2 linked regions of the Homo sapiens genome follow. The protein of the gene in region 1 interacts with the protein of each later gene in a pairwise test. Each region holds a gene or a part of one and is shown in the gene's direction. Other genes may lie near its edges.

The links.
Region 2: the proteins of THOC5 (region 1) and CFAP418 interact in a two-hybrid assay, tested with the Homo sapiens proteins (one study listed by IntAct).

The regions. Positions count from the first base shown.
Region 1 is NC_000022.11:29,536,696-29,544,061, reverse strand, and holds part of THOC5 (THO complex subunit 5), read left to right. Parts: intron 1-519; coding exon 520-633; intron 634-1,105; coding exon 1,106-1,203; intron 1,204-4,585; coding exon 4,586-4,732; intron 4,733-7,323; coding exon 7,324-7,366. UniProt on the Homo sapiens protein: Component of the THO subcomplex of the TREX complex which is thought to couple mRNA transcription, processing and nuclear export, and which specifically associates with spliced mRNA and not with unspliced pre-mRNA.
Region 2 is NC_000008.11:95,259,180-95,266,545, reverse strand, and holds part of CFAP418 (cilia- and flagella-associated protein 418), read left to right. Parts: intron 1-2,771; coding exon 2,772-2,859; intron 2,860-6,013; coding exon 6,014-6,078; intron 6,079-6,640; coding exon 6,641-6,706; intron 6,707-7,366. UniProt on the Homo sapiens protein: May be involved in photoreceptor outer segment disk morphogenesis.

The DNA.
Region 1 (7,366 bases):
CAGAGAAATTAAACAATGTGACTAAAAACTCGATAGATAAGTTTTTTAAAATCCATTTTTTCCCCCAGGAATCTCACGTATTTGTGCTTATGCTGACAAGTTTTGTTAGAATTATTGCATTCAATCTATTCTAGCCAAGCTTTATGGCTATAATTCTGTTATTTTCCATTTAAGTTATCCTGTAATGTTATTTATAGAGGTCAAATTTTATGACAAGATGTTACTATTGCTGGGATCTCTGTGTAGGATCTGTAGAGATAGATTGTGCCTTTGCTGCCCTTATTCCATCTTCAATTCCTGTTACTCTAGTCCAAGCAGAAATTACTTTTTTTTGCCCGAGATTCTTAATCATTTTCCTTATACAATCATCCTCTTATTTTCTTCATGACCCTTCTCATGGTTCTGAGCTCCCTCCGGTGCCGTTTTTGGCCCCAGATGAGGATGGGTCAGTGGTGAAGGACTGAAGGAAGCTGAGCTAGCCCTGTCGTCAGTGGGCTTTACTGTTTTCTTTGCCCACAGGCAATAGAAATAGAAGAACGGAGGATCCAGAGCTGTGTGCATTTCATGACTCTAAAGAAGCTTAACCGATTAGCCCACATCAGGTTGAAGAAAGGAAGAGATCAGACCCACGAGGTAGTAGTTAAAAGGTTTAATTTTAACCTTCCTCCTTCCTCCTCCCCATCCCCTTCTTTTTTTTTTTTTTTTTTTTTTTTTGAGACAGAGTCTCGTTCTGTCCCCCAGGCTAGAGTGCAGTGGCACGATCTCAGCTCACCACATCCTCTGCCTCCCAGCTTCAAGCGATTCTCCTGCCTCAGCCTCCTAAGTAGCTGGGATTACAGGCACCTCCCACCACCATGCCTGGCTAATTTTTGTATTTTTTAGTAGAGATGGGGTTTCACCTTGTTGGCCAGGCTTGTCTTGAACTCCTGAGCTCAGGTGATCCACTCGCCTCGGCCTCCCAAAGTGCTGGGATTACAGGCGTGAGCCACTGCACCCAGCCCCATCCCCTTCTTTATTCCCTTTACACCTTCTCTTAGTTTGCTGACCCTCTCCTCTGCTCCATCCTGACTTGCCCTGCTCACTTCTGATCGTATTTTCCTTTCAGGCTAAGCAGAAAGTAGATGCCTATCATCTGCAGCTCCAGAACCTGTTGTATGAGGTGATGCACCTACAGAAGGAGATCACCAAATGTTTGGAGTTTAAGTGAGTTTGGGAGGACAGGGCTTTGGCACATGTGGTCTTTCGGTAACTGCTTTTTCCCATGTAGCTCACTGTAAGTCTGTTTCTTTTTTTTTTTTGAGACGGAGTCTTGCCCTGTCACCCAGGCTGGAGTGCAGTGGCGCAATCTCAGCTCACTGCAACCTCCACCTCCCGGGTTCAAGCAATTCTCCTGCCTCAGCCTTCTGAGTAGCTGGGATTGCAGGCGCCCACCTCCACATCCAGCTAATTTTTGTATTTTTAGTAGAGACGGGGTTTTGCCATGTTGGCCAGGCTGTTCTCGAACTCCTGACCTCAGGTGGTCCTCCCGCCTCGGCCTCCCAAAGTGCTGGGATTACAGGCGTGAGCCACCGCTCCCAGCCTAAGTCTCTCTTTAAAAAGAAATCTGATGAGCTTAGAAAACTGTAGGATCTGGGAGAAGGGCAAATTGCAAGGGTGAATGTGGGAGAATTGCAAGCCGTGATTTCAGGCTGCATAAAGAACCTCAGAAGTCTCTCTGACCTTTTTGAGTTTTGAGCTCTGCACTTGGTAAAAAGCAGGTCTCTCTCCCTATCAGGGGTCTTTACATTACCAGTTTGATTTCTGGGCATGTTGTATGGGAGCAACTCACTTCCAGTCACATTCTTTTAACCTTTTGGCCCAGTTTTCCTTTCTGTAGTCCCAGCAGTTCATTTCTGCAAATGGATTTTATTCTTTGGAACCTGAATTTCTTGCTGCTTAGCTGCCTTCAGGTGAAGAAACTACAGTTTGTCAGTGTCCTTCCTCAAAACCAAGCTGAGAGATGAGAAGGAGGAAGGAGTAAACGGGAAGAGAAGGGGAAGTGTTCTCACTTGATCAGACCTGTTTATGCAAACTGAAAGCAGCTTTTATCTGTAACAAACTTGACATATGCAGGGGCCCTATTAGACATTGGGTCCAGGATATATATATATATATATATATATATATATTTTTTTTTTTTTTTTTTTTTTTTTTTTTTTTTGGAGATGGAGTCTTGCTCTGTCGCCCAGGCTGGAGTGCAGTGGCGTGATCTCGGCTCACTGCAAGCTCCGCCTCCCGGGTTCACGCCATTCTCCTGCCTCAGCCTCCCGAGTAGCTGGGACTACAGGCGCTTGCCACCACGCCCGGCTAATATTTCGTGTTTTTAGTAGAGACAGGGTTTCACCGTGTTAGCCAGGATGGTCTCGATCTCCTGATCTTATGATCCGCCTGCCTCAGCCTCCCAAAGTGCTGGGATTACAGGCGTGAGCCACCACACCCGGTGGGTCCGGAATATTTTTAATAATCATGATACTGATTGATTGTTTTGTTTTTTGTCTTTTTTTTTTTTTTTTTTTGAGACAGGGTCTCACTCCTGTCACCCAGGCTGGTGTGGTGGCACAATCCTGGCTCACTGCAGCCTTGACTTGACTTGGCTCAGATGATCCTCCCATTTCAGCCTCCTGAGTAGCTGGGACTATTGGCATGCACCACCATGCCTGGCTAATTTTTTGTATTTTTAGTAGTGATAGGGTTTTGCCATGCTGGGCTAGTCTCAAACTCCTGGTTGCAAATGATCCACCTGCCTTGGCCTCCCAAAAGGGTAAGATTAAAGGTGTAAGCCACCAAGCCTGGCCTGATGCTGATTTTTTTCTTTTCTTTTCTTTTCTTTTTTTTTTAAAGATAAAGTCTCGCTCTGTTGCCCAGGCTGGAGTGTGGTGGCGTGATCTTGGCTCATTGCAACCTCTGCCTCCTGGGTTCAAGCGATTGCATGCATGAGCCACCACACCCAGCTAATTTTCGTATTTTTAGTAAAGACAGGGTTTCACCATGTTGGCCAGGCTGGTCTCAAACTCCTGACTTCAGATGATGCACCCATTTCGACCTCCCAAAGTGCTAGAATTACAGGCATGAGCCACTGTGCCCAGCCCTGATGCTGATTTTTGAGAGGCATCTTTATCTGTTCCACAAAATCGTCACATAACAATAGTTAAATATGAATAGAGGTGAAATCTGCATCAGGTCTGTACTTGAGTTAATAATATTGTACCAGTGTCAGTTCCTGGTTTTGACAATGTATAATGTGGTTAGATAAGATAGTATCATTGGGTGAAGGGTACATGGAGGAAATACATTCTAAGTATTATTTTTGAAACTTCTTGGAGTCTTAAACTATTTCCAAATTAAAAAGGTATCAAAAACAAAATAATGTGATGCACTGGTCTGTAATCATCACCCAAATGGAAACTGACAAACCCAGAATACAGTGGAACTTGCGCCTGTTGGGAGGCAGACGGCCACATGGAAGGAGCATAGGCCTTGAAGTTACACAGCCTGGGTTCAAATCCCAGCTTGGCCACTCCCTAGCTGTGGACCTTGGGCAAGCTGCTTACTGATAGAAGCCTCCATCTCAGTCAAAAAATGGAGATTAAAACTCCCCACCTCTTAGAGTTGTTGTGAGGCTTAAATGAGGTGAGGATGACATATAGTGGGTGCTTATTAATATATGATAGCTGCCGTTATCATTACTGTCATCTGACCATAACCTGAGCAGTCAACTATGTTAATACAGCAAAGAGGGTTGGATTTTTTTGAGATGGAGTCTCGCTCTGTCTCCCAGGCTGGAGTGCAATGGCGCAATCCTGGCTCACCGCAACCTCTGCCTCCTGGGTTCGAGCGATTCTCCTGCCTCAGCCTCCTAAGTAGCTGGGATTACAGGCATGCGTCACCACGCCCAGCTAATTTTTAGTAGAGACGGGGTTTCACCTTGTTGATCAGGCTGGTCTCGAACTCCTGACCTCAGGTAATCCACCTGCCTTGGCCTCCCAAGGTGCTGGGATTACAGGGGTGAGCCACCGCGCCTGGCAGAATTTCTTTTCTTTTATACATATAAATCACTATGCATGCAACGGTTTAAGCCTCTAGATCTTTTTCCATCCAGTTCTCCCATGCTGGATCTTCCTCATTCTGTTCTTACGCGGCTAATGTCTTGAACTTAAGTGCAGACCCTTGTATTTATTCCTGTTAAATTATGTCTTGCTTTCAACCCTACAGCCTAGGCCCAGGCTGTAGTGTTTTTACTTGACTTTTTAGCTAGTAGTTCTCCTGCTCAGCTTGGAGACATTTGTAAATTTGATAAGAATCCCTTCCGAGTCTTTAATTCATGGGTAAAAAGGTTGGACAGCATGGATAAGGATCCTATGGCATGTCACCAACTACCTTTCTTCACACTGAAATATCTGCTAATGAGCATTTGTGGAGAAGACTGGATTCCAGGATCCTGTAGACCAGGACTAAGCAGGCATATGTTGGGGATAACTTTGGGCCTGCTTAAACTACAGTTTAGTTTCCTGAGAACAGCAGCTTGATGTCATGTTTTTGTCTGTAGGTCAAAGCATGAAGAAATTGATCTGGTCAGTTTAGAGGAGTTTTATAAGGAGGCTCCACCAGATATCAGCAAGGCCGAAGTCACCATGGGAGACCCTCACCAGCAAACACTGGCACGTCTGGACTGGGAGCTGGAGCAGCGGAAAAGGTAGCATTTCCTCCTTCCTGACCTTTTAACCACAAAGTGTCAGTGCTTTGTCATGACCCAGGATAAGGCAGCAAAACACTGTGCAACTCTCAGAATAGTTTCTAAGACCAAATCCCATTTTATGATTAAATCACACTGGATAGTTTAAACTTCACCAACCTCATCATGGATGGGGTTGGGGTTATAATTGCTTAAGGGTTTTTTTTTTTTTTTTTTTTTTGAGATGGAGTCTCACTCTGTCTCCCAGGCTGGAGTGCGGTGGTGTGATCTCAGTTCACTGCAACCTCTGCCTCCCAGGTTCAAGTGATTCTCAGTCCTCAGCCTCCCGAGTAGCTGGGTGGTAGGTGTGCACCACCACGCCCATCTATTATTTGTATTTTTTGTAGAGATGGGGTTTCACCATGTTGGCTAGGCTGATCTCAAACTCCTGACCTCAAGTGATCTGCCTGCCTTGGCTTCCCAAAGTGCTGGGATTACAGACGTGAGCCACTGTGCCTGGCCCTTTTTTTTTTTTTTTTTTTTTTTTTTCCAAAGAGATGGCGTTTCACTCTATTGCTCAGGATGGAGTGCTGTGGCACTATCACGACTCACTTCAGCCTTGACCTCCTGGGCTCAAGCGATCCTTCTGCCTCAGCCTCCCAAGTAGCCAGGACTATGGGTGCCTGCCACCATGCCTGGCTAATATTTTTATTTTTGTAGAGCAGGGTTCTCACTCTGTTACCCAGGCTGGTCTTGAATTCCTGGCTTCAAGTGATCCTCCCACCTTGGCCTCCCAAAGTGCTGGGATTACAGGTGTGAGTTACCATGCCTGGTCTCTCCTTGAAATTTTAATGCCGAAGACCTTATCTTTTGTACCATAAATCTAATTTTGTATTTGCCTTTCCCCTTATCTGTAAGTGTATGCCTATGGCAGAAAGCTTTGTAAACACTATTTCAGGAGGTTGTGCAACATTCTAGTGTATATTCTGGTGTATAGAAAAATGCACAAAATTATTCCCCTGTTGGATTTTAGGTTGTTTCCATTTTTTGCTGTCATAAATAATGCTTCAGCCAGGCGAGGTGGCTCACGTCTGTAATCCCAGCACTTTGGGAGGCCAAGGCAGGCGGATCACAAGGTCAGGAGATCGAGACCATCCTGGCTAACATGGTGAAACCCCGTCTCTACTAAAAATATAAAAAATTAGCCGGGCATGGTGGCGGGTGCCTGTAGTCCCAGCTACTCAGGAGGCTGAGGCAGGAGAATGGCGTGAAGCCGGGAGGCAGAGGTTGCAGTGAGCCGAGATTGCGCCACTGCACTCTAGCCTGGGCGACAGAATGAGACTCCGTCTCAAAAAATAAATAAATAAATAATGCTTCAAGTCACACTTTAGGTATAAACTTTTCTATATGAATAAAGAGGTTTATTTATTTATTTATCTATTTATTTATTTATTTTTTTGACACAGAGTTTCACTCTTGTCGCCCAGGCTGGAATGCAATGGTGTGATCTCGGCTTGCTGCAACCTCCACCTCCCTGGTTCAACCAATTCTCCTGCCTCAGCCTCCTGAGAAGCTGGGACTACAAGGCGTGTGCCACCACGCCCAGCTAATTTTTGTATTTTTAGTAGAAGCGGGGTTTCACCATGTTGGCCAGGATGGTCTCTACCTCTTGACCTCGTGATTCACCTGCCTCGGCTTCCCAAAGTGTTGGGATTACAGGCGTGAGCCACTGTGCCCGGCCAATTTTTGTATTTTTAATAGAGTTGGGGGTTTCACCTCCGCCTCCCCAGTTTAAGCGATTCTCCTGTCTCAGCCTCCTGAGTAGCTGGGATTACAGGCGCATGTCACTGTGCCCAGCTAATTTTTGTATTTTAGTAGAGACGGGTTTCACCATGTTGGCCAGGCTGGTCTCGAACTCTTGACCTCAGGTGATCCGCCTGCCTGGGCCTCCCAAAGTGCTGGAATTACAGGCATGAGCCACCATTCCCGGCCGAGTCTGGTTCTTAGGAAATTTGTGTCAGTGTCTTAGCAGATGGGGCTGACCTGTCACTCCGCTGTCCAGTCCACTGATTGTGCTGGGCACTGACTCAGCCATCAGTGCTGCATTCTTGTGGCACTGGTCCAGAATCTGTTCCCACCCTGTGCTAACCAGGCCAGTCCATGGGCCTCTTTTGGGTTATATAGCTGCTAAGTCCATGTTTGTGAAAGTTTTAGGTCTTACCTCTCAAGCAAGAAATGGAGCAGAAGATGGCATGTGTATTCCCTAGTGGTTACAGAGCAGACAGAGCCTCTGGAGAGCAAGAGACATGGATCCAAAGCCTAGCGCAGTGTTTGTTCTTAGCTGGATGCCCTTGGGCAAGTTATCTACTTGCCTGAGCCTTGGTTTCCTCCTTTGGGGATAAGCAAAGTCCCTGTCTTCCAGGGTCTTTATAAGTATTAAATGTAATTATGCTTTTAAAGAGCTCACCAAAGTACCTGGCACACATTGAGTGCTGGATAAACATTGGCAGTTAATCATGGCTGCTACTATTAGGTGGAGTCTGACAGTGAACAGGCATGTTGAGGTATCACTGGGGGATATCAGGTGACAATGCTCTTTCCTCCCCCAACAGGCTGGCAGAGAAGTACCGAGAGTGCCTATCTAACAAGGAGAAG
Region 2 (7,366 bases), on another chromosome or scaffold:
ACTAATTGTATAGCAGTGTAACCTGTATCTCTTATAAGAGTTAAAATACTAATATTACCTCTTAAAATGATACTATAAATGCAAATAATACTATAAATGACCATGCTACATCTGGATACCAGGAACAACTGCTAATGTAAGAGGTCAAAACATGCAATTTGTTGAAGTGTTCAAAATGATAAAAAGAAATATGTGATTAGTAAAAAAATTAAAAAAGACTGATGTGGGTTGAGAAGAACTGCAATAGGAATAAAGTGGTTCAGGATGATACAGATGGGAATATTTAAAGATAATATAGCTTTCTAGATGATAACTATAATAACAGCCAACATTTATTGAGCTCTTTCTGTATGCTAAGTGCTTTGTATATGTTATTTCATTTAATCTTCACAATCCCATGCGTGAATACTGTTATCCCCATTTCATTGACCAAATCAATGCTTAGTTACTTGCCTAAAGTCATATTGCTAAATCACAAGGACATAGTAGATCTAGATTTAAGCTTTCTATATAATACCTCTCACATTTAATTATAGGTTTAAGTGTTTATATTTTATCTTAAATATATGTTTTATTTTCAGCAGAAACTATATCTTTAAAAGATTAGAATGTCAGAAACAGAGTCAGAAAGGGAACCAGTAAAAGCTTATTAACATTTGATTGAGATTATTGTCACATCAAAAGACCAAAAAGAGTCTTATACAGTCCTTTAAAATTATGAGTTCTCAATGAAATGTTGACTTTATTGTTATTACTATAGCAAAGCATAGGCAAGTGTAGGCATTTTGAAATTGTGTGATCTAAGAACAGACCAGAATCTTATGTAAGCTGGTAATTTGGATCTGTAACAGTACTGATTAGGTTGGTGGAGTTTGGATGTATCTGATTCTTGAAATTGTGAAATTGCATGAGGGAGGAGAACCCGGAAAGTATGTCCTGAAAGCCAAAGGAGAGAATTTTAAGAGGACATCTTAGCAACCTCTTATCGAAAAAGAAATATAAGGAATTGGTACCCAACAGTGTCAGATGCTTCTGAAAGATTAAAGAGGATTGGAACTGAGAACCACCATTAGATTGTAGTGATTTGGGCAGTGGAAACCTTCGAGAGAAGAGTTTCACTATAGTTGAGGGATTAGAGGCCAGAAGTAGAATATTATACCTGAAAGAAATTTTAAATAGTCATCTAGATATCATTTTTATAGATAAAATATTTGAGTTTCAGAGAGATTAAATAATTTAAACTAAGTCGGTATCTCTAGACTGGTGATGATTTTGCCACCCAAGGGGCATTTGGCAATGTCTGGAGACATTTTTTATTGTCGCACCTGGGGAAGGGTGTGCTATTATTTAATAGCATCTAGTGGGTAGATGCTGTAAAATGTCCTGCAATATACAACAGTCTCCTGCCCCCACATACACACCCCAGAGAATTATCTGACCCAAAATGTCCATAATTCCAAGGCTGAGAAACCCCCGCCTAGGATTAGCACCCAACTGATTCTAAATCTAGTCTACTTGTAAGGAAGTAGAAATCGTGGATATAGACTATTCTTCAGTAGTGAGTAAGAAAGGGTGGCAGCTTCAAGACAGGGGTTTTTTGAAGTGTCTCTTTGAAGAAGCAAGCCTTGAGCATACCTCTAAGTCAAAGGAAGAAACCAGTATACAGTGAAAGACATTAAGGGTAAAAGTTACAGTACAACTGAAGAGGCTAAGCCTGGAGACAGAATCAACCATTAGGTAGTAGGCAGCCGTCTCTTGCTTTTCTTATATCAGGTTAAATTATTTTACTCCAAGATGTAATGAAGAAGGCCTATGTTAAAAATTGTCAGAGTAAATACATTTCTGAAATTAGAGAGTTTGACTAAAAAACTTGTCTTCTAAAACAAATAATTTAATGAAGTTATAAAGTTGATGTACAGCATCTACTTCATACAAACGCTAAAGAAAGTTAATCTTGTATAGTATTAAGTGCACGGACTGCCCTAGATTCAATTCCAAGCCTTTTCTCCCACTACTTATATGACCTTGAACAGATTTCTGAATCTCTCAGTGCCTTTTCTTCATCTATAAAACTGGGGTTAAATAAAGATATACTCATGTAAAGACTAAGGACAATGCCTGGGTTATAGTAAGTATTCAGTAAATACTTACTATTTAGTTATTAGCTATTTAGCATCAGCTATTAAATAGAAGTTCTATGCAGTAGTGGTTTATATTAATAATCCAGTGATGGCTTTGCCTGCAGAAGGTAGAGGTAGTTGAGTAGTTGAGATATTCTGTCTAACAAATAGCACCTTTTTTTGGGGTGGAGGTGGTCATTTGATTACATGACCTTCGGCCCCTCTAGTAAAGAGGTATGGTTGACTTACAATGCAACCTTTAGGGGAAAAGTCAGGAAGACTCGTTAAAATTATCTTTGTTTATAATATCAGGTTCTGCTTATTGCACATATTTTGTATTAAATACATGCTTTATGTAATTCAGATAAGTACATACCCAGCTTCCTCTTGAATATAATGTATATAGCTGTAAATGTCTGAAGTATGTAATATCAAGTATGTAATAGTATAGAACATATGTGAATTTGTACCTGATAAAGTATATCTTTGTCTCAACAAACTTAGACTATATCCACAGTGAAAAAAATTAAAATCACTTTTATCTTTCTATTATCAGCTCTAATAATGGACTTTAAGCAAAACTCTTCTGATACTAGCTTTCTCTGCTCATAAACCTCAGGTAAGTTTTCTTTGTGTATGTCTTCTTTTCAGATCAACAGAAACATTTAAAAAAGAAGATGATCTTGACAGTCTTATTAATGAAATACTTGAAGAGCCCAACTTGGACAAAAAACCCTCTGTAAGTCAAGTGTTATAAATATGTAGTAATTCTGTCATTATTTCAAGACATGTTTAGAATAGTCTTAAAGATGACACAAGTAGCTACCCATTATCTTTTGAATTCTGAGAAATACAATTACTTAAAGAAATTATTACACTTAAAGAGCAGTAGAAGCAGTAAAATATCAGAAACTCTCAGTATGTGTTTCCCTGTGCATTTCTCAGTAAGAATAACAAATTAGAAAAGCTGTTAGCATAGAAGTCAACTCACACATCAAGCTGGTCACTTGTATTTATTTGTAGTATCTAAGGACACTTTTCTAAAAGGCCAAAAACAAACAGCTTTCATTGTAGGAATGTGCTTAGCACCTCACATGCAATGCCATTGCTCTTATCCCATGAAGCAATGACTAAATTGTTAATATTTCAGTTTTTTAAATGTTTGTATGTCTATTTTAGCTGCATAAAAAGTTCAGAAAGTAATATAACAGCAACCTATATACTGAACATACCATGACAGCCACCCATATTAAACATATATTAATGTTTTGCCACATTTGCTTTACTGGACCTTTTTTTTTAAAAAGAAGTACAAATTAAAGATATAGTTTAAGACCTCTCTAAATCCTATTCTATTGCCTTCCTTCCCAAAGATAACCATTTATCCTTTCCATCCATACATTTATACTTTCATTACATATGTACATAACCATAAACAATTCTAACTGTGTACAGTAGTCCATTGTATAACTCTGCCACAGTTTATCCACTTCCCTGATGATGGACATTTAGATTGTGCTCAGTTGTTTGCTATTACAAATAGTGCTTCATCAGATACCTTTTTTTTAATCGGAGAAAAGGCATACAAATTTTGACATGTACACAGGGAAAACCAGTGATTACGCCTTCATTAGATATCTTTACATGGCTTCTTTTACCCATATACGGAAGTTTCTCTAGGGTGTATAAAGCTAGAAGAGGAATTCCTAGGTCATAAGGTGTGCTCATCTTCAACTTTTCTACCCATTGCCAAATTGTTTTCCAAAGTGACTTTATCACTTAACATTTTTCATACTGGGCAGTATATGAGAATTTATGTATTTTAATTTTTATCAGTATGGTGTGTGTCAAGCATTATCTGTTAGATTTAAAAGAAAGATACAAAAATAGAAGTCTAATTTACAAAGATCACAAAAAAATTTAAGAAATAACTATAGTACCAGGGTTTTGTTTTTTAAAGGATAGGGAAGATAAAAGCAAAACAGTGGACTGAAAATACCTAGGTAATGGTTGTGGTAAGAATATGGATAGGGACCACTTACATTTTTGTCACCCAGACTAAAAATCAAGTGACTAGTATAGATTTTAGAAAATTAAACTTTTTCAATTCACCTGAAGTAAATTAATAAGCACATGCCAAGTTGAATAATATGTAAACACAATAGCAATATTAAATACAGTCATTCCTTGGTATACTCAAGGGATTGGTTCCAGGACCCCCACATATACCAAAATCCATACATACTCAAGTTCCACAGTCAGCCTTACAGAACCCACCTTATGAAAAGTTGGCCCTCTGTACGTGGGGTTTCGCATGCCACAAATACTGTATTTTTGATCCTTGTTTGGTTGGAAAAATTCCACATATAAGTGGACTTGTGCAGTTGAAACGCATGTTGTTCAAGGGTCACCTGTACCCTGCAAATAGAATACTTCCTAAATACTGAGTAAGTGCATAAGCACTGAATAGTAATGCCAATTAGTAGTACTAATTAATGGTAGAAAAAAATTACATCATTTTGTTGCTCTTCATTAATCATCTGAGCAATTCATTGTTTATTAAGTACCAATAGGGTGCATATCTGTATATGAGGCGCTATCTTTTCAGTTAAGGTGTTTCAGAAGAAGATAAGTACTTCTCTGGTTTGGCTTTAAGATATACTAATTTGAAATAAAAGTAGCTCTTATAATCATGAAGAAGTAAATTTTTAATCATGATCTTTTCCTTTTTTAGTTATGTATTATGTCCAGTTTTCCAACCTTCAAAGGAGACAGCAGGTCTAAGTAAAACATTTATTGGGAAAAAAAAACATGTATTAACAAAAGAAACATAGATAAACAGATAGTCTATGCCAACGTTGTCATTAGAGGCTATATTATGCCCTGACAATACTACTCCCTTACCGCACCTCCTGCTCTCCCATTCTGTCGCATTTCTGAACTGTTCCCAGACCCACACAAGAAAGCCCAGGAACCAACAACAAACCTCAGAGTGTGCCAGCTTAGAGTCATAAGCCTGAGTCTGGATGGCACATGAAACATGCTCCCCAAACAGAAAGATTCGTGCATATTATTATTTTTCAAACATGTACCAAAATTTTTTCCATTTCTGCTTAACATCAAATAAGAGTTGAGAGACATAGTAAAACAATATTTTCGCCTCTATTAAATTTCCTCACCCACTATGTAAAATGAAGGCATGTCTCTGCATAGTTTAAATTGCCTTTTCTCCATCTCACTTCCTCTCCTTGGCGGTGGTCCTAGTGTGTGGTTGGTTTATGTTGTTTGGTACCATATACCAGTTAACACTTAATAAATGCTTGCTAATGATGATGATACTATGTAACCATATAGGAACTACTGTATGGTTGTGACTAGGTAGTTCTACATTTTCCTTGCACATTTATTGGTTGATGCCATTCCATTTGATCAAAATTAATATTCCTGAAGTTACACAGGAGCTTGGTTAATTTTAATTCATATGACGCACATTCACAGCCTTTAAAAATGAGTCTGAGGTTTTTTTCCTCCTCAATTGAATTTTTCTAGAATGAAGTTTTAAATAGCAGGTCCTTCATATTAAATCATTGAACTGTAATATTAACTGAAGAGTTATAAAGTGACTCTAAATCTTAGCATGCTAATAATGGCAATATATCAGTTTCCTAGCCTAAAAGTTAGTAGAGTAATTTGCACATTCCTTAGGGAGTTCTACTTCCCTTTTGCCTTTAAAAGGTTTTGATCATTGTTTTTATTTCAGAAACTTAAAAATGATGCCATGAAAATTTGTATTTAAGTCATTTAGAAAATATTCTTGTTATAAGGAATATTAGTTTTCATGTTACAGTTTTCTAAGTTACTCATGGCCTTTTATTGTTTTGCTTTTTTAACAGAAATTAAAATCTAAATCTTCAGGTAACACATCTGTCAGAGCTTCCATTGAAGGCCTTGGTAAAAGGTAAGTTGAGATTGCTTTGGTGAATTATACACACTATTGAGCAAACACTATGAGCATAGTCTAGTAGATTTTGTTACCATTTAAACAGCAGTGACATTGAACAACAAAGCATTGGTTGGCCTTCAGGAGAAAGACCAATAGCAATATCTTCAGTGTTCTTATGGTCTGTGACCCCCTTTGTGTAAAGGAAATTAAATGGGGGATTATTGCTATTGTAAATAATTTTCTGCCATTTAAAAAAAGTGTGAACAGTTTCTCAAAATTAATGTTCTGTTATATTCTTCAGTATTTACTTTGTCCCTTACATTATTTGGCAAACACATTTTTCTTTTACTCATTTTAATTCCTTGAGTGTTCCTGAATGTACAGGTTATATCCAATAAAGCAGTGATCCTACAATAAATATCTCTTCTTTGAAATGGTTGGCTTGCTAGGGAAAATAGACAATTTGATTACAAGAACATAAAGTCAATAAAACCAAAAATTTTTTTAACATGGCCAAATTAACTTCTCCTATTTTTTGTTATAACTTCATATTTTTGCATCTGTTGAACACATCTAGTTGCAGTCCGGTGTACCTTGGTGGAAGCTCTATTCCATGTGGGATTGGAACAAATATTTCATGGAGGTAGGTTGTCAGAAATGTATTATACTTTCTTACTAGGTTTTTTCCAAATGGATGCCCCATTGTTAAAATGTAGTTATCATCTTCACATCAATCTGTTTTATAAGGAGAGGTATTTTTATTAGCTAATCTAAGAATTCTTTGTTTTTTATTCTTGGGAGATAGCTATTGAAAGCTGTGATGTTAGGTACATATTATTCATTTTATGCCCTTTTCTAAGCCCCACTTGAAATGCCTGGATCACTCCAGTCCCAGCTTTGTTTCCACAGGACACAGGAGAGTGAACTTCCTTCCAGGCAGTGGAAGCAAAGTGGCCATGCAGATACATGATGCCTTACCCACACTGCCTTGGCCAATTAGCATGCAAAGCTACAGGTCTGCATTGCCCAAAACATTCTCAAGCGTAGTTGCTTGATTTTACATGTTTACATATTTCAAAAACAAAAACCTTATGTTCTTTGTCTCTTCCCTGCCCTTCCTGCCTCCACTTTCTCACTCAGTACCTCTTTCTGGGCAGTCTTATAGTCATGATGCCACCTACCCCAAACCCATATTAGCCCCATAGTCCTAGCACATTCCATTGGCATTTTCATAATGTGGGCAAACAGTTTGGCTTTAAGCAAACCCTACTCTCCTGCTGCTTTTGGTTCTATTTTTGGCAGA